Homo sapiens: one gene and its partners. The protein of the gene in region 5 purifies or fractionates together with the protein of the main gene of each other region. This does not show direct contact. Each region holds a gene or a part of one and is shown on either strand. Other genes may lie near its edges. The genes, in order: SERPINF2, PON1, GC, SAA4, UBE2U, HRG and ITIH4.

What was found.
Region 1: the proteins of UBE2U (region 5) and SERPINF2 purify together in Homo sapiens (affinity purification with mass spectrometry; one large-scale study listed by BioGRID and IntAct). This does not show direct contact.
Region 2: the proteins of UBE2U (region 5) and PON1 purify together in Homo sapiens (affinity purification with mass spectrometry; one large-scale study listed by BioGRID and IntAct). This does not show direct contact.
Region 3: the proteins of UBE2U (region 5) and GC purify together in Homo sapiens (affinity purification with mass spectrometry; one large-scale study listed by BioGRID and IntAct). This does not show direct contact.
Region 4: the proteins of UBE2U (region 5) and SAA4 purify together in Homo sapiens (affinity purification with mass spectrometry; one large-scale study listed by BioGRID and IntAct). This does not show direct contact.
Region 6: the proteins of UBE2U (region 5) and HRG purify together in Homo sapiens (affinity purification with mass spectrometry; one large-scale study listed by BioGRID and IntAct). This does not show direct contact.
Region 7: the proteins of UBE2U (region 5) and ITIH4 purify together in Homo sapiens (affinity purification with mass spectrometry; one large-scale study listed by BioGRID and IntAct). This does not show direct contact.

Annotation. Positions count from the first base shown.
Region 1 is NC_000017.11:1,752,871-1,755,765, reverse strand, and holds the end of SERPINF2 (alpha-2-antiplasmin isoform a precursor), read right to left. Parts: intron 1,645-2,895; coding exon 1,232-1,644; 3' UTR 501-1,231; downstream 1-500.
Region 2 is NC_000007.14:95,307,533-95,311,032, forward strand, and holds part of PON1 (serum paraoxonase/arylesterase 1), read right to left. Parts: intron 680-3,500; coding exon 479-679; intron 1-478. UniProt on the Homo sapiens protein: Hydrolyzes the toxic metabolites of a variety of organophosphorus insecticides. Capable of hydrolyzing a broad spectrum of organophosphate substrates and lactones, and a number of aromatic carboxylic acid esters.
Region 3 is NC_000004.12:71,743,639-71,746,079, forward strand, and holds part of GC (vitamin D-binding protein isoform 1 precursor), read right to left. Parts: intron 1-2,441. UniProt on the Homo sapiens protein: Involved in vitamin D transport and storage, scavenging of extracellular G-actin, enhancement of the chemotactic activity of C5 alpha for neutrophils in inflammation and macrophage activation.
Region 4 is NC_000011.10:18,234,003-18,238,069, forward strand, and holds the start of SAA4 (serum amyloid A-4 protein precursor), read right to left. Parts: upstream 2,801-4,067; 5' UTR 2,715-2,800; intron 1,929-2,714; coding exon of another isoform or gene 1,925-1,928; coding exon 1,834-1,924; intron 1-1,833. Other genes in the region: SAA2-SAA4 protein precursor, read right to left, coding at 1,834-1,928. UniProt on the Homo sapiens protein: Major acute phase reactant.
Region 5 is NC_000001.11:64,265,246-64,267,868, reverse strand, and holds the end of UBE2U (ubiquitin-conjugating enzyme E2 U), read right to left. Parts: intron 846-2,623; coding exon 661-845; 3' UTR 501-660; downstream 1-500. UniProt on the Homo sapiens protein: Catalyzes the covalent attachment of ubiquitin to other proteins.
Region 6 is NC_000003.12:186,669,014-186,672,513, reverse strand, and holds part of HRG (histidine-rich glycoprotein precursor), read right to left. Parts: coding exon 3,463-3,500; intron 2,577-3,462; coding exon 2,486-2,576; intron 892-2,485; coding exon 725-891; intron 1-724. UniProt on the Homo sapiens protein: Plasma glycoprotein that binds a number of ligands such as heme, heparin, heparan sulfate, thrombospondin, plasminogen, and divalent metal ions. Binds heparin and heparin/glycosaminoglycans in a zinc-dependent manner.
Region 7 is NC_000003.12:52,824,173-52,827,672, forward strand, and holds part of ITIH4 (inter-alpha-trypsin inhibitor heavy chain H4 isoform 1 precursor), read right to left. Parts: intron 3,026-3,500; coding exon 2,921-3,025; intron 2,782-2,920; coding exon 2,619-2,781; intron 2,480-2,618; coding exon 2,369-2,479; intron 1,843-2,368; coding exon 1,714-1,842; intron 1,143-1,713; exon of another isoform or gene 1,033-1,142; intron 787-1,032; coding exon 670-786; intron 394-669; coding exon 225-393; intron 166-224; exon of another isoform or gene 144-165; coding exon 18-143; exon of another isoform or gene 1-17. UniProt on the Homo sapiens protein: Type II acute-phase protein (APP) involved in inflammatory responses to trauma. May also play a role in liver development or regeneration.

The DNA of each region.
Region 1 (2,895 bases), on a different chromosome or scaffold from region 5:
AGGAAGGTGTCAGCCCTGTGCCAAGGTTTCCCCACCTGCTTCCCCCAAATCCTCAGGCACTGACTGTCTCCAGCTGGAGCTGGGTACTCCCGGCAGCCTGCCCCCGGCTGGCGGGCACCAGCTCCTGGCAGAGGGGCTGGTGTGTAATTAGAAGCTCCACAAACTCCCTAATTGCCAGTTCTTCTCCCAAACCAGGAGGCTGGCGCTGTTCTGAGCCGCCCTGTTGCCGGCTGCCTGAGGCATAGAGAGAAGAAGAAGCCAGGAGCAGAGCCAGGCTGGCGTGGAGGTGTCCCGGGGGAGGGCTGGCGAGGTCAGAGGGGACCACGGGGTGGAGGATGCCTGGCGAGCGGCCAGAGGCCAAACGTGGCACTGCGCGGGCTGCCACCCCTGCTGGGCCCAGGGTTCCTCAGCACAGTCCACCCTGCGGCCGCCTCCCTGCCTTCCCCACCATCCTCACTTGTCCCCACCCATGCCCAGAACGGTGACATCAAACCAGCCAGGCCCATTCATTCTTTATTCAGGTGGCATAAAAATCACTACAAAAACCTTACAAAAGAGCCTTAAGGAGCTCATGGGATCCTTCCCTGCCTCGGTTCCTGAGCTCCCGGGCAGAGGAGGGAGACAGGAGAGGAAGGAAGGGAAATGCTGGCAGTGTTGGGATCTCGAGGAGCCGTGGGAAGTCTGGCGTGACAAGGCACAGGGGGTAGGATGGAGGCTGATGGACTCTCGGCAGGTTAGGCCACAGCCAGGCTGTGCCAGACACGAGTTCCACGCGGGGCTGAGGACAACGCTTCGCCTCCCGAGCCACCACCAGGGCCCGTCTCTCCCCACCCTAGCCTAGGTGTCCCGGGACAAGTCCAAAGGCAGCCCTCTCCCCCTCCCTTTTTCTCTGGTAAACAAAAGTCGGGGTGTCCCAGCTGACGTGGGGAGCAGCTAACCTGTCTCCTGGCAGAACTAGAAGCACCTCCCTCCTGCCCAGGCCCCGGTGCAGGACACCCTCTGAGCCTGTTTGGAAGAAAGATGAGGGTCAGGCTCCCGGCTCCCCGATGCCTGCCCTCCTCCCAGCCGCGCCCCCCCCCCACCCTAAACTCCCCAAGAGGTGTTGGGAAAGAATGGCCTCTCTCAGACTGCCCCCGGCCCCTGCCCCAGTGCCACAAAGCCGGTTGGAAAGAGTCACATGAGTGGAGAGGCTGGTCCAGGCAGGGACTCTGGATGCCACAGCCACGGCCCCTCACTTGGGGCTGCCAAACTGGGGGTAATCCTCCTCCATGGGGGGCACAAGTTTTAAGTCAGGGCCGAAAAGCTTGTCTCCGCGGGGGAAGCCTTTCAGGCTCTGGAGGAAGTCCTTGTTGCCCGGGGAATCCTGCTGTTCCTTGAGCTCCCGCGGTGCACTGGGGTTGGGGTTCCTCACGCTGCCCACGAAGAGGGGAAGGCCTGTGGTGTCCTCGAAGATGAAGAAGAGGAAGGGGCGGTTCACGCTGAAGGAGGACAGGGACATGCGGGACATGGCAATGCTGGTGGCCGCCGCCGCCTCCACGCCGACCTCGCTGAGCTCCAGGGTGGACTGATGCTGCACGCCGGACACCACCAGGCTCTGCTCGGAGATCCCACGCAGGTCTGGGGCCTGGAACAACTCCTGCAGGCCTGCCCAGGGCCAGAGATGGCTGGTCAGAGCTGCCCTTGGCCTCACAGGCTCCTGGAGCTGCTTGGGAGGGTGTCTGAGATCCTGGCCAGGGAACAGCTTGAACTCACAGATACCTGCTTCATTCCTATCCGGTTTCCAAGACTCAGCTTAAACACCACCTCCTCCAGGAAGCCTTCCCTGATCCCCAGCTCTAAAGTCCAACCAAGGTACATTTTCAGTGTTCTCCCAGGTGAGCTGGAGAGAAGCCCTCTCTGTCTTATCGCTTATGCTGTAGTAAGTATGTGATTGCTCGTCTGCCCACCCCATTAGACTCAGCTGTTTGTACATGGTGGGCTCCCGGTACCTGGTACAGTGCCTGGAATACAGCAGCTGCTTAGCAAATGGCTGAAGGATAGATGCTTTATTTATTTATTTTAGTTATTATAATTTTTTTTTGAGATGGAGTCTCACTCTGTCATCCAGGCTGGAGTACAGTGGCGTGATCTCGGCTCACTGCAACCTCCTCCTCCCAGGTTCAAGCAATTCTCCTGCCTCAGCCTCCCAAGTAGCTGGGATTATGGGCATGCGCCACCACGCCCGGCTAATTTTTGTATTTTTAGTGGAGACGGGTTTGGCCATGTTGGCCAGGCTGGTCTCAAACTCATGACCTCAGGTGATCCACCCTCTTTGGCCTCCCAAAGTGCTAGGATTACAGACGTGAGCCACCATGCCCGGCCTTTATTTTTATTTTTGAGACAAGGTCTTAGTTCTTTTGCTGAGGCTGGAGTGCAGTGGCACAATTATGGCTCACTGCAGCCTCAGCCACCTGGGGTCAAGAGGGCCTCCCACCTCAACCTCCCCAGTAGCATGCACCACACCTGGCTAATTTTTGTATTTTTTGTAGGGACGGAGTTTCAATGTGTTGCACAGGCTGGTGTCGGACTCCCGGGCTCAAGCAATCCACCCACTTCAGCTTCCCAACGTGCTGGGATTACAGGCATGAGCCACTCCACCCAGCATTTCTTTAACAGTGTGACACCCCAGCTTCTCCTCCTTCCCCTTCCAGGGAAGCCAGCGAGGCTCACATGCCATCCCAGGCTCTCTACCCAGACTCTCCTTGCAATGCGAGGTCTTGGGCAGCAAAGCAGAGCCCCATTCCCCGGGCCACCCCAACTTCCTCTAGGACAGAGGGTCTGGGGGCTCATATTCAACCCTCTCCCCGCTCCCGAAGCCCTGGAAAAGAGCAGGACACAGGACAGCTCTGACTCAGC
Region 2 (3,500 bases), on a different chromosome or scaffold from region 5:
ACATTATAAATCAAATACATCACTAAGCACACTGCTTAGTTAAACTGACTTGTTTTTCACAGTAATACTTTCTTGATGAAGGAAGTATTGCCTTGATTTACATTTTGGTACAAATTCCTCATCTTGTCATAAACCTGCACTACTGACGTATCTATACCTGCATACTATTCAACTCATTATACACTCACATCTTTACTCAAAACAAAGCTATTCAGACATATCAAATCTTCATCACAGTTCCCCCTCTTAAAATGTACTTTCTTTCCAAAAAGGAAATAAAACCAGTATGCCTTCACAATGAAATTTTTGATTTGATAAATTTCACCCCCTGAAAAATTAAGACATTTTACATTTTTCCTAATTTTATCTCACTAGGGTAACATGTTAAAATGTATCATATTACTTAAAAAAAGAATATATTCCAAGATATCTCCTGAGAATCTGAGTAAATCCACTACATTTCAGAGAGTTCACATACTTGCCATCGGGTGAAATGTTGATTCCATTAGCAAAATCAAATCCTTCTGCCACCACTCGAACTTCACTTGGACTATAGTAGACAACATACGACCACGCTAAACCCAAATACATCTCCCAGGATTGTAAGTAGGGGTCAAGAAAATAGTGATCATTTGTGCCATAAAAGTGCTCAGGTCCCACAGCAACAATATCATTCAAACTGCAATTAAAACATACACACATAATATATAAGGTGAAGGTATTGAACATTACAGGATTATTAACTGGCATTCCTCACTGTCTATTCCTAAAATCAAGATGTGGGATGGAGCCTTCGTGCTAGCTATAATGGAACACAATTAATATGAAATTAGTCCTGCCGATACAATCCTTAGACAATCATTGGTCTAAGAAATCTGAGGAGGTGATTATAGCACTGTAACATAAAAATCCTATTATATGTATCTTAAAATAGTGTTACGTCGTGTGTGTGTGTGTGTGTGTGTGTGTGTGTGTGTGTATCTGTGTGTGTCTGTGTGTAAATACACTAAATTCAGTAGAAATTAAATTAAGCCAGAAATCATTGTCAGGGCAAAAATGTGCTCACATATCTGGGCTCACATAGAACTAACTCCCATAAGAAATTGAAAAAATGCTGAACCAGCAGCCTGGATACTTGCATTTTAGTTTAAGCTCTGCTACTATTAGCTGTGTGATCTAAGAAAAATCAATCTTTTCACATGTCAGGACCTCAGTTTTCTTATCTGTGAAAGCAGGATGATAGACTGGTTGATCTTCCAGCCTTAAGATTTCGTGATTCTAAACTGAATGAAATGTCCATGAACAAGAATGCTCAGAAATAGAATGCTATGGCTTTTTTTTTTTCCTTTCTGATTAGGATTCTCTGTTACTGAAAATGTAAGATATATGAGTCTATTTTTCTGCTTTAATGGATACAATAGGGAACACATAAGTGAGTCATTCTTTGCTGATTGAGGTGATGGAAGTTCCCCAGGGCATGATCTGGGAGAAAATTATCTCTGCTCTATTGCAGAGGCGTCATGGCCAGCGCATCAGCTCTGACGCAGCTCTGAGCTCTCAGGCAAGTTAGACAGGCATGCAGAGCCTCAGTTTTCTCATCTGTAAAGAGAGGTTAAATGATATTCTCAAAATCATACAGCTCATTAGTAGAAAACTAAGGGTCAGGATCTTAATTTGTGGAGTTGCAGTGGGAATTACAATGAGACAATGCCTGTTGTGTGCTTTGCAGGGAGCATGACATTCAATAAACCCTCAATCAATGCTAGCCACTATTACAACATGAAAAAAAAAAAAAGGTCTCGGAATTTAGGATTAGTCTGGATGGGCTCCAGACATAAATCTACAATCTGATTTTACTCTCTCTTTTTTAAAAGTAAATTTCTTAAATTAGTATGCTGGACTATCATTTGTCTGTTTTTCACAGAAAGGGGCAGAGTGGAATGGTTTAGAGCAATAGCTTTTTATTGCTGAAAATTTACTACCCCCAGGTGTAGTAAAATAAGTAAATAAATAACAAATTTTTAAAGGGTAATAGAGTAATAGCTTTGAAATCTGATGGACTTCATTTGCATCCTGACACTGCTTGCTATCCTTATAATGTGGGGCCACAGCATTGTCACTAAATTTTGAGCCACTATTCTGAACCTCTGTTTTCTCTGTATACCTTGAAAGGCTAGAGTAAGAATACAATGAAATAATGAATGCAAAGGCCTTCACACCATGCCTGGCATACAGTAAATGACCAATAATAACAGTTGTGATATATGAATAATAACAAGTTTAAATTATAATAGATTTAGTTATTGGAATATTAATGTTATAAAAAACCATAAAATACAAAGAAGAAAATACACACAGCTAATCCTTGGATTGAGAGAGCAGAACTCTAGTTAATTACGGCACCGTGGTTATTTTCAGTCTCCAATGCTGCCTAAGACCAATATTTTTGCAACTGGCTCAAGAAAAAAATACTCCAATCCGGTAACGTAGACCAATCTGAGATTTCCAAGATTAAATGTTAAAACACATAATTTTTTTCACTATTTTGTAGAGGTTTAAAGCACCAGCTCTGAACTCATGTTACCAGGATTAGAATCACAGCTGCACCATTTACTGATGATGTCATCTGGGGAAACTTAACAATTAGTCCAGGCCTCAACTTTTTAAAAATCCAAAATGGATATAATAATAACACCTAATTCAGAAGGTATTTGTAAAACATCAATAAAATAATCTGTTTGAATTAGTTAGTGTAGCACCTGACTTACAGAGAAAGCTCATTTATTAGTGTTATCATTTGCCCAGCTTCTCCATTCTACATACTGTTCTCTACTTTAAATCTTGGTGTTCCTCACATTCTCCACTCAGTGACCTTATTCTCTCTCCAAAATATATTTGTTAAATAAATGCACGAATAAACTCTTCCACCAAAAGCTGTTCTCTGAACTTTTATTCATCTTGATGGGGCAGAAGATGACCTGAGCTGGGGTTCCTACTTGGCCACTAGTGAGTTGATTGGCCTTCATCCAGTAACTCAATTTCTCTCCAATCTCATTTTCCTCATCCTCAAACCACCAGATAAGAAAGAAGAGGAAGGGGTCCTGGTAACACAGAGTGCACACTACATACCAGGCCCTTAGCTAGGTACCTGCAAAGAGTACAAATCTAGATTTACAGATATGGAGGTAGTCAAATGCTGTACATAAATTATATAAAAATAGGTTGGGATTCTAGAAAATCGTAATCAGTTGGAGGTAAATGTTTCAGAAGATAGAGTCGGATTGTTCTCCTAAATCCATCACTGGCCTTACAAGCCAAATCTTCACAGGGCATGTGAGGAAGTTGACTGAGATTGGAGATTCTTGAGTGTTTTATTTCACCATATGTTACATGAACAAGGTGCCTAGGGGGAATTGAGTGTTACCACAGATCTGCTATTGCATAAATTTTGTGCAATCAAACAGCAGCGGAGGCAGTATAAGGAGGTCTTAGATGCACTT
Region 3 (2,441 bases), on a different chromosome or scaffold from region 5:
TAAGATAAGTGGTAAAGTTGTGGTCTCATTATTTCTGGATATCAAGTACCTCAGACCTATAACTTTGTGAACAAGGTATAATTTGCTTTTTCAAAGCCATGTAACTATTCCTGAAATAATTGAACATTGGTAGGCCTTCATCATTGCAGAATGCAATGGTGATAAACAAGCAGTAGATAAAATTGAGCTCAAAACACTCAATGCATGTTACCAAAATCCATGGAAGGGATATGTGAATAATTTTAGGAAGGAATATGTGAATATGTGAGTAATCCATCCAGATGATCAAAATGTATTTGGGTAGCCAAACAATTTAGTGGTACAGAAATCAAAGGATTAATTAAAGGCCAGAGAAAAATGTAGACTAACACAGGAGAAATGATAAGAAATTTCATTTCTTCATCTTATCAGATGAAGATAATGACCATGAACCAGAAGAATCAGTATATTAGAATCTTCATTAGCTTGTCACTGACAAACCAAGTTTATCTCTTGATTGAGTTAGCATCAAAAATACTTCTGGGCCAGGCACAGTGGCTCATGCCTGTAATCCCAGCACTTCAGGAGGCCGAGGCGGGCGGATCACGAGGTCAGGAGATAGAGGCCATCCTGGCTAACACAGTGAAACCCCATCTCTACTAAAAATACAAAAAAAAAAAAAAAAACCCAAATTAGCTGGGCGTGGTGGCGGGCGCCTGTAGCCCCAGCTCCTCGGGAGGCTGAGGCAGGAGAATGGCGTGAACCCAGGAGGCGGTGCTTGCAGCGAGCCGAGATCGCGCCACTGCACTCCAGCCTGGGAGACAGAGCGAGACTCCATCTCAAAAAAAAAAAAAAAAAAAAAGATACTTCTGACATTTGTTCTGAAAAGAAATCTCTTGAAATCCATCAAATTATTACTTCCTCCTTACTTACCTTAGGATATCTTCTCCTATTTTAATTAGTTTTCCCAAAGCCTAAAAACATACAACACTAAGGAAATGCACTCTGAGTTCTGAATAATAACACAGTCCAGTGAAAAACATATTCAAAATCAAAGTTATCATATAGCTTTCCAAATAACCCTGACTCTTAATTAAAGCTTAAGAAATCTTGAAGGATGAGAGGTGAGGTCACTGTTGCATATTGGGATTTTAACTCTTTGGAGATTATTATATGGGGATTGAGATAAAGGAAAGATTCATTCAAATGGGGGGAGGATGTAATAATTTAGCAGCAACAGAGATCAGAAACTATTTTAACTCTAGAATATTTACACTTCAAATAACTTGCATTTTGATTTTTATTCCTTGGAAAATTATTTAGAGAACTTACTTTATCGTTGGGACATGATATTTGTATACCAGAGCACAAAAATATATGGGCAGGAAAACTTTTTAGTTTAGATTCAACCAGTAGTAGTAGGAGCATCAGTGCAACAACTTTGCTAGTATTACTGCTAATATTCATTTTTACTGCTTTTTAAATATTTGATATACATCACCTCAATCATTGTAACAACACTGTGAGGGAGATATGGAAATTTTCATTTTACATGAAAGGAAACTCATCTTTAGACAGGATAGATAACTTGCTCAAATTCACAGACAGATAGTTAGAGTGGGGATTCTAATTCAGGTTGGGTGATTTCAAATATAAGTTTTCTTGACCATCCCCCTTGTACTGGTTCTCAGACTGTTAATTTTCTTTTTTACAGCTTCAGAGGATTTAAATAATAGTTGAAAAGCTGAATATGGTGAAATGATTTAATGTTATTAATGAATGGATTGGAAGGCTTTTGTTTCCACATTATTTTGGGCAGAGTTGTCAGTAAGTCAGCAAAATAAACGTTGACATTATTGAAAAGCCTCAGTTCAGCTAAGAACTGAGATCCAAACAAGTTTGCATCAAAAGTCTCAGGTGTAATTTCTTTAGCATAAATACAATTGAATCTGGAGAGAAAATATTGTTGTTGAAATGTGCAGAGTTCGGCGGGGGTGCTCTTCAGTTTAAGATGTGAACTTACGTTGGAATAAACTATTTTATGTTCTTAATATCTTCATCTGGCATTTTTTAATAGGTGAAAATATAGTGACTGAAAAAAGCAAGTAATAATATTTCAACAGTATTGTTTTCATTTGAATAAGAATGTCCCTTTCCTCCTAAGGTCCTTGCTGTGTTATTTTTAAGACTTGATGAGCCCTGTCTTTAAACTCAGAGTTCTTCCTATTGAAGTGCATCAGAATCCTTTAAATGTTCTTTACGGTATCATTATGTTACATGTGAGATTATGATGGATGAAGCACAAGGCAGGGGACCAGTAAACCTGGATTCTAGTCTTACATATATCAGAAATTGGCTGCTCTTGTATAAGTGTAAGCTCTTTAACTTTTCTCGGTGCTTAATATTCTCATCTGTAAAATGAGTTTGAACAGATAAGAATAAATTTATTAAAGTCTCCTTCC
Region 4 (4,067 bases), on a different chromosome or scaffold from region 5:
GCCATGATAGCATAAAACTTTAAAAAGCCTAATTATCCAATAATGTAGGATAAATTGTGATATCAGTATACAATGGAATACTATGTAGCAATGAAAAAGAACAAAATATTAATACACATGACAAATGCTGTCATGTATATTAGTATGTCGTAATGTTGAGTGAAACAAAGCCGGATACAAAAGACATATTCTGTATGATTTCTTTTATTCAAAGATCAAACACAGGGACACTAATCAACAATGATAGAGGTAAGAATAGGAGTTACCTTTCGTGAGGGTTGTTAACTGGAAGAGGGCATGAGAGACCCATCCGGGGTGTGTGAAATGTTTGACATCTTGATCTGATGGTGTAATATGGATGTTTGTATGTGTAAAAACCTCATCAAGCTATACTGTGTACTATATGTAAGTTATATATCATTTTAAAGTTTTTAAAAAGATTAGTGGAAAAATAGATGTTTGAAACAGGTCTAAGCCAGGAAGAGCTATAGAAAATGTCTATCAGTGCCTGTGTTGTTCAATCAATAAATATTTTTGAGTTCTGCTGTGGTTTACGTGTTACCAAGTTCTTTAAACCAACTCACTTGGAAAAAAGAAAAGCTGTGATAAATAGTTTTAATTGTTACTTAGGTACTGTGTTCTAAGGGATATTTCTCACTAACTTCATGTATTATTTTGTGTCTGTAATTTTGTCAAATAGTTTATCTCTGGCATGGCATGACTGTCCTTTCTCTGATGCATGCTTTATGTTCATTCTATGTTTTCCAGATCTACTAGCAAGAGTTTTCTCCAAGCATCTGACAGATTCTGTCACTGGGTGACAGAAAAACCCAAGACAGTTGTTCTCATTGGCATTGTGCTTAAAGTAACCTGGGGAGTTTTTCAAATGCTATTCCTAGTCCCACTTCACTTCTAAGATTCTGACTCAGTAACTATGAGAAGAGGCTTCAGAGTGTACTTTTAAAACAAACACCGGCCGATTTAAATGCTGGTGGACCATACAACAAATTCTGAAATACACTGACCTAAGGGAAAAGATATTCTCTACTATGTGCAGAAAAACTTAGTACATGCTACCAAAACTTTTTAAAAACTATTTATAGAATATCATTTTTAAAAGCACAAAATGCAGAAAAAATGAAAATTTATAAAATTTCAATTGAAAAATTACAAAAAATTCAACTACAAAATTAATAACAACACATGAAGTTCAAAGTATTGCATAACCTGACAAACATAGTTTTCCCATTTTAACAGCTAGTCAATAAGATTCGTTTCCCATCCAGAATGGCAGAAGTCAGTTTCCCAGCCGTATCTCAGCCCTCCTGTGGCTAATCAGTAGAAATTTGCTCTTTTTATTTATGGATAGAAGTTAGGGCTTAATTTTCATAAGCTCTGCATCCCAAGCATTGGCCATTTGCTTGGGTACAGGATGGGATTTCTCTACTCTCTGCTAGGCATGTCTCAGTCTTGGAGTATAATTGTGAACTCAGTATATTCCCTGAGGTGGATGAGCTAAATAAACATCATGCCCTGAGAAATCTGCCATCTGTAAATTTCCGCAGTGGGAGATAACCCCCTGGAAGTTTTTATCCTTCTGCACTCTACACCAAGAGTACAGGCTGGGCCCAAAGCATCTTTAACCTCTCGTCTGGAAACCCCAAGGGAGGGTGATAAATCAGACCAGCCTAGAGGAAGAAACAGATACAGAAAACCACACTCCTGCTCTGACCTCTGTGTGGCTTCTCTAAGGAGCACTCACATCCAGTGAGTATGTGGCCCCTGCTCAGAATGAATCCTGGGTATGTGCCCTCCATCCTCCAGAGTTCTTACCTTGGAGAGCCTCCTTGAAAAACGAACGCCAGCTTTCACTGGTGACTCCCATGACCAAGGAGCAGAAAACAATGCCTGTGAAAAGCCTCATTGTGCTGAAGAGAAAGAAAGACAGGGGCAGAGGATCATAAAAAAAAACACAGATCTATGTTTTGAGGACTGAATTTCTTTCCTTTTTTTCTTTCTTTTTTTCCTTTTCTTTCTTTCTCCTTCCTTTCTTTCTTTCCTCCCTTTCTTTCTTTCTTTTTTTTTTCCTATTGCCCAGGCTAAAGTGCAATGATATGATTAAGGCTTACTGCAGCCTCGACCTTCTGGGCTCAAGTGATCCTCCCACCTCAGCCTCCTGAGTATTAAGGACTACAAACGTGCACCATCACACTCAGCTAATTTTTTTTTTTTTTTTTTTGGTAGAGACAAGGTCTTGGTATGTATGTTCGGCCCAGGCTAGTCTCGAACTCCTGGCCTCAAGCAATCTTCCTACCTCAACCTCCCAAAGGATTACAGGCATGAGCCACTGTGCCAGCCAAAGGACTGAATTTGAAAGACTAATTCCCCATTTCCATTTGTTTGTATGAGAATCATAACTGCATGAAAGATTGAAACGGGTTTTAAGAAGAAGCATAAACCCTTAATTCTCAGCCCAGATCTCTAGAAAGAATAAGAGGATTCCAACGTGTTATTTGGTCTGTGGTCAATTTGTCACCCAATACAGCAGACTAAAGTCAATCAAGAAGCATTTCCTGAGTTCCTACTCTCCTCAGCACTGACCCCGTAATGAGGTAGAAAACACAGTTTCTCTCCAATTGAAATTTGACAATTATGTGAGAAAAGGATCTCAAAAGAGTCAAATAAGAGAAATTACTCCTTGGAAGAAACCTCACCTGTGGACCTTTCTCCAGATGAAATTTCAGTAAAGGCAGAGCTGCTGGTATCTTCTGGCCGTGGAGCTATAGTTGGTACCTCTGCTGGCTTTGGCATTAATGGGAGAACGGTTTTAAATCCAACAACCTGCCTTGCCAAAGTCCTTTTTGCTCAATTCTTTGGGTATTTTAAAAATTAACATATTGGGTAATAGTGTTTCCTTATCTAGAAGTAGTTTTCCAAATTGGGTCATCAAGGTATTTATTTTCTGGCAGTTTTTCTTAATTGCCACTTTTCCCTCTTTTTAGTTTCCTGTATCACAGAAGAGTTGTATTTGCAAAATCCAGTGTGGGAAGACAGAGGTCTTTCTCCACTTTCTTCTCTTTGTGTCTTTCCATTCTTAACTGTTTAGTAGGAGGTCTTCCCAAAAAATTGCACATAGATATTATGCTGTAGGAAGTGATCAATATTATTAGCAAAAGAGATGTTTGCTTGTCTCTTGTGACTTCTCTCTAAAGAATGTAAGGACACAGAACAAGCAAGACTTGACTGTACCATTCATGGGATGAGGTAATGATTCTGGGAGAATACAAGGACAGGAATAACACCAGAAGATCAAGGGTGAAGGCCTTTGAGGCATAAAAACTCTTTTTTCATATAAATATGTATTATTCTGCACTTTCTTTTAAACTTACTATTTATTGGAAGTCTTTCCATGTCGGGCTTGTTGCTTTTTTTTTTTTTTTTTTTACAGCTACACAGTATTCCATTGCATGGATGGACCATAATTTATACAATATTAATGGCTGTTTTGACAGTTATTAACCTTTTGATATTACAAATAATGGTGCATTTATTAACCTTGTACATATGTCTCTTGCACATGTACAAATATATCTCTAGGATAAATTCCTACAGAAGAAACTCCATGGTGAAAAAGTATCAGATTTTATAAATTTTTTGTTTGTTTGTTTGAGACAGAGTCTCACTCTGTCCCCCAGGCTGGAGTGCAGTGGCATGATCTCAGCTCACTGCAACCTCCACCTCCGGGGTTCAAGAGATTCCCCTGCCTCGGCCTCTTGAGTAGCTGGGATTATAGGCACATGCCACCACATCAGGCTAATTTTTCTATTTTTAAGAGAGACGGGATTTCGCCATGTTGGCCAGGCTAGTCTCGACCCACTTACCTCAAATGATCTGCCCACCTCGGCTTCCCAAAGTGCTAGGATTACAGGCATGAGCCAACGTCCCTGGCCCTAGATTTTATAAATTTTTATATGTTGCAAATTGCCTTCCATGAGGGCTGTATCAATCTCTACTCCCACCAGAAATGAGTGAAAGAACTTGGTTCCACATTGTCTCTCACACAGTAT
Region 5 (2,623 bases):
ATGAGTGAATACTGGTGAGGCAAGCAGAGTTGGGGGTCAAAGGCAGAGACATATTTTAGAATAGGAGAGACCAAAGCACATGTGTAGGTTGAGACAATATGGCAAAAAGAGACAGAGAAAATAAAGTTATAAGAATACGAGGAGATAGGTCAAGGTTTAAGAGAAAATGGCACGTACTCTGGGATAAAACAGAAGAGAAACATTAGTAAATAGCGACATCTCATTCCTTGAATATGGAGGAAACAAGACAAGAAACTAGGCAGATGTAGGTCCATGTATAGATCCCGCTACTTGGGGTCATGTCCAGCCTCTGAAGCTTTTAATTGCTCCCCTCCTATCCCAACCTCTTTCTGACCCATTCTCTGCCTGCAAAAACTTGTGTCCAGTAGCCTAACAACTGTGGGAGTGTGACACCATTGATTGGCATATGGCAATGAACACCCCTAACTTTGGTAACTTTGTTCTAAAGGAGTAGCACTCAAAAAAGTCAAAGCAACATCTTTACTGATTTGTACTTATATTTCTAATTTGTACTTGCAGTGAGTGGGTGAGAACAACTTAAAAAAAATGAAATCCAAGTTCTGAGAGTCTTCCAAAATTGCTCCACAACGCTGGGCTATGGCGGAGGCTGTTTATTTTTTGAATCTGATAATGTTCTGCTTAATCTTCTGAAGTATTTGTATTGAGAGTATTGGTCCAGGAGATCAGATCTTCCACTTCCTCTTCCCTGGGCTCATCTGTGTCATTTTCATATAATGAAGTGTCACTCTTCCACCCCTCCTCTTCTGTTTCATAAATGTCTGTGATGCTATTTATTGCAGTTGGTGACTCAAGAAAAATTTCATCTGTGGTGGGAATTATAAAAAATAGAAATTTAATAGACATAATAAGAAAAACAATAAAAAGAGAAGTGTTCCTGCATTTGTAGGATAATGCCAAAGACCATCTGAATGAATGTGAGCAACCTTTTATACACTTTCTAAACTTCATGTTTTGTAAGTAACTTTATTTGTCAAAAATCATTCTTTCCATTTTGCTCAATCTTTTGATGCTTTGTTAGTTCATTCATTTAGCATATATATTTACTGGGTCTCTGCTAAGGGCCAGTTGATGTGCAAGGGAAAAGCTGCTTTGGGAGCACAGGGAGGGAATCACTGTGTCTAAGTGAAAACTGAGTCGGACTTTGAAACAGGAAGACCAGTTTGTTAGACAGAGAAGGGAGGTCAGAACATGTTAGATAGAAGAAACAGCACACATCGTATAAGCACAAAGGTATGAGAGGACTTGACAGGGTTAGGGGTGATCAGAATGGATTCTCCCGCGCTTCCACTGTGCCAGGTGCGGTGCTAACCCGTCGACAGCTATAATATTATTTAACTCAGACACAACCCTTGTGATGGGCAGGTATTATTATTCTTATTTTACAGATGAGGAAACTGAGGCTGAGCAACCTATAGTAACTTGATCAAAGATATCCAGCTAATAACAAGACTCGTCCCAGATCTGTCTATCCAAAAACACAATGTTATAGTATACAGAAAGTTTCGTGGAGCTGGAAGGGAGGCTGAAGCCAGATCAGGAAAGCCTCATATGTCATGCAAAGGACTTTCATCTTTATCTTATAGGCCTTGTAAACAGGGAAATAAACTGATTATACTTTTCAAAAGGAGAATATAGATATAATGTCTATATTTCTAGATGTATATTTCTACACAGCATGGGGACCTTGCTTTCTGGGGATGAACTCTAGCTGGTACTATTTATGTTCTGTTAACTCTAAAATCTCACTGCATTCTCTTCCCTTTTTCCTAGTTGTCACCGGATTCACTGCTGATTATGGGTTCCAGGACAAATTTTGTTTGCCTCATATGTTTATTTCCCTCACACATGAAATAAACCCTGTAATATTTGCTGTCTTCTAATGTTATAGACATGGGCTACAAGTGACTTGTTTTCCTTCTGTCTTTGGTTTATAGAAAGATACACAGACAGACCGGGCATGGTGGCTTACACCTGTAATCCCAGCATTTTGGGAAGCCAAGGCAGGTGGATCCCTTGAGGTCACGGGTTCGAGACCAGCCTGCCCAACATGGTGAAACCCTGTCTCTACTAAAATACAAAAATTAGCCGGGTGTGGTGGCAGGAGCCTGTAATCTCAGCTGCTCTGGAGGCTGAGGCAGGAGACTCACTTGAACCCGGAAGGCAGAGGTTGCAGTGAGCTGAGATTGACCCACTGCACTCCAGCCTGGGTGACAGAGTGAGACTCCCTCTCAAAACAAAACAAAGAGAGAAAGATACACAGAGAGATGTGAGTTTACACAGTCACCATTATCCTATGGTTATCCTGAGGCCCACAGTGATTTTTAATTTTTTGTACTTTCGGTACTAATATTTAGTTGTAATTAATTTAAAACTAAATTCTGTCTGTGCCTTGAGAAAAGCATCTATTTATTTTCCATGAACATATTATTGATGGACTAACTCCAGTTCTTTCTAACCATGCTTGGGCCTTTCTGACTCCACATGCTTTTGATTACAAGAAATATAAAGCCAAGTCAACCCAGTTTAAACAATAGGAGAGTGTTTTATCTCACATAAGAGAAAAGCCAGAGTGGAGAGCAAG
Region 6 (3,500 bases), on a different chromosome or scaffold from region 5:
TTCATTCTCATTTATTTGATGTGTTTCCTCTTCGAGTGTTTTCCTAGATGTGTTACACATACACAGGGAGATCTAAGTGTTTCATATAAATGGGTCCATAGTCTAAGTACTGTTCTATAACCTGCATTTTCCTATACCAATATGTTTTCAAACTCCAGTGCGCATGGGTCCAAACATTCTTTGAGCAACTGCATGGTACTCATTTCCTTACTTGTATGCAACACAATCTATTTAACGCTGCATTTTCTGAATGCATAGCAAATGTCAACCAGTTGCTCTACAAGACAGCTCTGGGTGAAAGTACTTGGGTCCTTGTAGAGAGAGCAGGGAACCATCTAACTATAGGCACATTACTGGGTGTGGTGAGGTAATTTCTCTGAACTTCAGTTTTCCATCATAGTACAAGAATGTTAGTATTGGATGATTTGCAATGACACAACCCTCATATGTTCTTGTCTTTCCCTGTTTCCTCTTTAGATTTTCTCCCTACTCTGTCAGATGTCTACTCCCCTACCCATCCTTCAAAAAAAAAAAAAAGTGTTTGAGGAAAGCAATTTTTTTGTATTTTTTAAATACCTGCTGCCTGTCTTTTATGGCCTCAAAAGTGACAAATTAAAAGGCAGCTAGTCAATTGAGGCAGGTGGAGAGGGTATGCCATTCAGTTCCTGCTGCCAGGTTGGAGCCTGGGCCTTCAGACTCCAACCGAACCTTAGTGGAGACTCACCACTCTTGCAACTCTCTCGATTCGGTCCACTCTGAAAGAGGCAAAGTCATCATTCTCCTCTTTGTACTTCTCAAGGGCTTTGTTGGCTTGTTTTCTGTAGCGCTCAGTATCCTCAAAGAAATCTATGAGGACCGGACTATCTTTGGTATTGGCCAGTGCTGAAGAGACTGGAGAAAGAAGATAGCAGTGTCACAGTAAAGGGCTGGAAATGTTAATGGTGGCTTGGTGGCAAGAATGACAATAACTTTCATTTTAAGGATGGGCAAATTGAGGGTGGGAAGAGCTGAGTAACTGCTTCAAGATCAATCAGCCATTTGGCAACCGAACTAAACTGCTGATTCTTCCTTCGAGTCTTTCTGATCCCCATGTCTATGTTGTGACCCCTACTCATGATGCCTTCACCAGTACCACTGATAAAGTGCTAACATATATATATAAATATGACAACTATGACATTCGTTAATATATAAATATATATTATCTATTATATAATATCTATTATATATTTATATATTATATAATATATCATATGTTTTTATATTATATAATCATATATTTAGGTATTAATATGATATATATATTAACATATATATTAAATAATAGAGATGGGGTTGAGTCACATTGCCCAGGCTAGTCTCAAACTCCTGGGCTCAAGCAACCCTCTGGCCTCAACCTCCCAAAGTGCTGGGATTATAGATGTGAGCCACCGCACCAGGCCACTAATATTTTAATAAGTTCTTCCTGTTGTTGCCAAGGGGGAAGACAGAGCATTAACATAGAGTTTTGCCCAGAGAGAGGAGAAGATACAGATCATCCTTTCTTCAATGCAAACTCCTGTGGCAGTATCTTGCATTTTTGTATATAATATCATATTTGGATTTGCTATTTTAAAAAGGAATCCTGTGATAATTCTATTTGAAAATGTAAATTAAAAGGGTATGGAGGCTGGGCGTGGTGGCTCACACCTGTAATCCCAGCACTTTGGGAGGTCAAGGTGGGCAGATCACCTGAGGTCAAGAGTTTGAGGCCAGCCTGACCAACATGGAGAAACTCCATCTCTACTAAAAATACAAAATTTGTTGGATGTGGTGGCATATGCCTGTAATCCTAGCTACTTGGGAGGCTGAGACAGGAGAATTGCTTGAACCCGGGAGGTGGAGGTTGCAGTGACCCGAGATCACACTATTGCACTCCAGCCTGGGTAGCAAGAGCGACACTCTGTCTCAAAAATAAAAATAAATAAATAAAAAAGCTGTGGAATTTAGAGTTAATACTCCTGGGATTGTGTCACATCTTCACAATATCTTGGCTTTGTTCTTGAGGCCAAGTCATTTAACTTCTTTGAGCATCAATTATTTTGTCTTAAATAGAAAGTGTCATAACCTTTACTTCATAGTCCCAAGACTTTACTTCCTCCCAAGACTATACAACTGGCAGATGATGACTCAAGCTAAAGCAAGCCTGACTCCAAAGCCTATATCTATAATGAGGCTAACCTACCTCTCCTAAATCTCTATTTTTATGTGTTGAATTTCTTTAAAAGAAGGTGTACCAGTACCAGGGAAATTTGTCTCAATTCTATTCTCTGGAGAATGAATAATAATGGAGTCTATGAAGGCTTTTCTTTCATGTACATCATAGATATACATGAATACATCTGAATATATATGAATACATATGTACATAGATGAGACAAATACCACTGTATGATTGAATTTGTATTAATCAAGAATTAATTAGCAATTTAACAGATTACCATACCAGAACTTGTGGTGCAGTTAAAGTCAATCACTCTGAGGTCCTGAGATTCATGGGAATGTCTTGTAGCTATTACCTTACATTGTCCGATCACCTGTAAGAAAGAGGCTCTTGAGGACTTGCTGAGTCATTGCATCCTGCCTTCCTCAGGTCAGATATGAAAGAGCAAAAAGGTGATGCAACATCCTCCTACTGTTCATTTAAAAATGCATTTCTTTCATCAAAGCTTGTCTCAAACCCTGCATTTTCTTAGTCAGTTTCTGTGTGCTGCATCCTGTTGGCACTCAAAATCCTCAGGAGAACCAGCGAGAAACTATTTAAAGCATCATGGCCATACCCCAAACATTTTCAAGGGAAAAAGTGGTGAAAGTTCCAGGAGTGTGAACCTCTCATTTTCTGGAAATGAAATCTTGAATCTCTGCTTATTCATCTTCATGTTCTCCACCTGTGTCAGAGAGCCTGGCATGTCAATACCCACCTCCCACATGCAAAGCCAGATCTTATTCCTCAGTGTATATCCTAGGTGCTGAGCAAGACCCAATTCCTCACTGCAAGTAATTACTTTGGCCATTCCTGAAAATAGGACCATTGTTCATAGGACACAATTACAAGTTCATAGATTCTGATACCTGTAGACTGTCAAGAGTGGAAGGCCCTTAGAGTCCATGAATTCCTAAACCCACTTCTTATTTTACAGTCAAAAAACACCAAAGTGGAGGGATGTTATTAGATGATTTACCCAAGGACCCACAGCTGGTTATGCTCTTTGATGGGACCACACACCCTGCTGAGTTGTCTTGAACTGGGTTCCCAGGAAAGACTCTCAAGAGTATTGCTCAAGGTTAACATCATCTTCATGAATCTCAAGGCAAAAGCTGCCCTTTCTCTTCTACTGTGTTAGCCCAGGCATTGGCTGAGTGAACAGAGTAGATGGAAAATAAGAATGAAAAGAGCAGAGTGAAGGTGCCCTCTTTACTTACTATTTCAGATGGACGTCTGGAATCAGGTGGCTCACAGT
Region 7 (3,500 bases), on a different chromosome or scaffold from region 5:
ACGGGCAGGGCCCTCACCCACAGTGGGGTCGCCATCGGTGAGCAGGATGATGAGTGAGACACTCCCTTCGGGCAGCCGCTCCTCCTGGTTGCTGCTGTCCAGCAACTGCACAGCCATCAGCATTGCATCATTGATGTTGGTCCCTGAGGAACACGCACTCTCAAGGTGGTCCCCAGCCAGGAGCCCTGGAAGCCCCCACCCTGCAGGGCCACAGAGACACTTACCTCCCAGGGCCTGGATGCCCGCAGCAAAGCTCCTGGCCTTGTTCACGTTCTCGGCTGAGGCTGGCACCAGTGATGGCCTCCACTGAGTTGCTTCTGTACTGAAGACGATGAGGTTGAACTGGTCTCTGGGGCTGAGGTCATCCAGGATCTTGATTAGGGCTTCCCGGGTCTGGTCAGGGAGAGGAAACATAGGTGCTTCAGAAGGGCTCCCTGAGGGCTCGTGTGCCCTAGGGCTGGCATCCTTGGACTCCTGTCTCAGGGGTGAGGTCATGGTATCTGCTCTAGGAACAGGGGCTGCCCTAGGCTCTGGCCAACCTTGGTTCCTGAGAGCCACCCGCCCCATGGTGCCGAAAGGTGAAGCAAGGGGGTCTGCCTGCCGGACCACAGCTGATAGCGTGAAGGGCCTGGGAGTTTTCAGGGCCCTGCCCTGGGCCACAGGACCTACCTGCTGGATTTTCCTGCCACTCATGGAGCCGCTCTTGTCAATGACAAAGACCACATTCTTGGGCATTGTGGTTAGGCCCTCGGGGGCAAAGTAGTGTACAAAGTAGCCGTTCTCGATCTGTGGCCAGAGTGAGACCCACCCAGGCCATCAGAGCTACAATTGGCCCTATCCCCATTCAGCCCCTTTACCCCAAATTCTGGGTTTCTGTGCTCTGTTCCAATCCCATTTCCATCCCACTGCTAACCTCCCCAAAACCTTGCCCTTTTTCAGGGCTCAGACCAGCCCCTTTCTTGCGGAAGCCTTCCCTGCTCATGCATAGCCCACCAGAACTCTCCCTGCAACTTTTCCTTCTATTTGTTTTAGTATTTCAGATGGTTTATACTAAAAAGTTCAGACATCATAAACCTGACAACCATCAAAAGAGGGAAGACTTCAAAAACATGGAGTAAAAGGGAAGTATAATAACAATGGCAGAAATGGCTGGGTGTGGTGAATCACGCCTGTAATTCCAGCACTTTGGGAGGCTTAGGTGGGAGGATCACTTGAGCCCAGGAATTCAAGACCAGCCTGGGCAACCTTGTCTCTACTGGAAAAAAAAAAAAAAAAATTAGCCAGGTGTGGTGGTGCACGCCTGTAGTCCCAGCTACTAGGGAGGCCGAGGCAGGAGTTTCTTTTGAACCTGGGAGTTTGACGGTGCAGTGAGCCATGATCATACCAAAATATAACAACAATAATAATGCCAGAAACTAGTGTGAAAGAAACTACTGCAAATCTGCATAAAACTGAGTTGTGAGCCTCCCAGCAGCAGAGGCAAAGAGGGAAACCCCACAGGGCAGCTCTTCTCAGAGACAAACCTTTTCTGCCTGGGAAAGGGAATAGTTTCAGGGACAACACAACTAAATCACGTGTTTTCTGTCTGTGCCGGTCCCTGGTGCACACTGCTAAGTAAGGGTGGTTCTTTTCCTGTTCTAAAATACCCAAGCTCAGGCCCTTGGGGGTGGACAGACTTCTAGGCTGCTCTGCTCTTGCCTGAAGTCCACCCACCTGAATGGAGCCCCCGGAGATGGCCCGGTCCACATCATAGCGGATAATGAGGTTGCCGTCCAGGACTGTTTCTTGCTGCTCTGGGGACTTTTGCTGCTGGGAAAGTGTTGGCTTGAACCGGATGTGAGCCTGGAGGAATAATCCGGGCTGAAGTTGGGAGGAACAGCAAAGCCAGGCCAACAACACCCTCTACCCCTGTCTGTATATTGGGAAATCAGAATTCCAGGATGCAGCCTTGGGTCCGTATTCCAGGGCACTTTCTTTCAGGCTGAGTTATTGATGGACCACTTTCACGTAGGGGAGGGGTGTGATGAGCTCCCTGTTCCTGGAGCTGCGCAAGCAGAGGCTATTCCAGGATGTGTGCCATCCAACCATCTCCTTCTCTCCACCTGGCCCCAGGACCCTCACATCAGTCTATTATCCAGCCCCTTCCCAGACAGATCTCAGGGCTCATACGAGGACGCCATGGTCCTTCTCTAGGCTTTGCCCTCCCCATCTGCCAAATGACAGCAAGGATGCAGAGATCTCAGGAGCCTCTCCAGGTCACAGCTCACAGGAGGGAGAGCCCATCCTGCTTTCCAGAAATCCGGGCTCATAGGGCTGGCCTGAAGGCAGGGCCCTTGGTACCCTCACCTGCTGACCACAACAGGCCCACCTTGGTCTTATTCTGCCAGGTGGTGAGGGCGTCTACCAGCTGGTTGGTCATGAAGGTGCTCTCTGTCTCCAGAAAGCTGATGCCCTGGGGCTCGAAGATGTGAATGTCCATCTGGAGGCAAGATGTGGGTCCCTGGGTCAGCCAGGAGCCTGGGCTGGGGCTCACAGGAGGCTCAGGGACAAAGAGGGGCCGCCCTCAGCAGGGCAAGGGTCATGCAGGAGGCCTCCCTGGAAGAGGTAGCAGCAGGTACCTGCAGGTGCTTGACCAGCTGCTGGGGCCGCACTTTCAGCAGCAGCTCGTACACCCCCAAACGCCGCTTGAGCAGCTCCTCATAGACCAGCTCAAAGGTGATCTTGGCATTGGGAGCCACACTGACCGACACCTGGAACTGCTCCATGTTTCTCCCGGTGGCCCTGGGGGAGAAGGGCATCAGGCCTGCTCCTCCAGGACAGGTGGGGTAAGGCTGGTAGAGGTGGGAGCAGGACTAAGGGCCAAAGGCAAGGTGGCCTTTGTCTAGACCCTCCCCACTGAAGCTGCCCCCCACCAGCTCACTTGACGAGGCCAGCGCTCTTTCCCTTGGCCACTGCTGCGCTGTACTGTGCCTGGGCTTCAGCCTTCTCCTTGATGATCCCTGGGTAGGTCATGCCATCGATGATCCTGGGGGCAGAAGGGTGGGAGTTGTTGAGAGCCTGGTGGCAGGGGCCCATTCCACTCCTGCCTCCTCCAGAGAGCCTTTCTGGACTCGGTGTGCCTCTTGACACAGTGACTCCCATCTTTGCCTGAGCCCAGTGCCATTTATTATGCACCTACCGCATACAGGACCCTGTGCAGGGCACTCTGCAAAGTGCTCCAGGCCTCTAGCTCCCGGAGGTGTGTACAGTAACAGTAAGCATTCATTTTATAGAAGGGACGAAGGGGAGGCTGCAGAGGGGCAGGGCCGGGCTAAATCCTGCCTTCTCTCCACCTGTCCAGTCTGGCCGAAGCTGGCCCACATTCCCACCTGCCCCTTCCATTTCACGGACTGTTCCAGGGGAACTAGTTCATCACCAGCAAGAGCTCTCTGAGTCACACTTGTTCCCAGCCCTGCGTGCAGCCGTGTGGGGCCAGGACTGAGGAGGAAGCAGACGTAGGG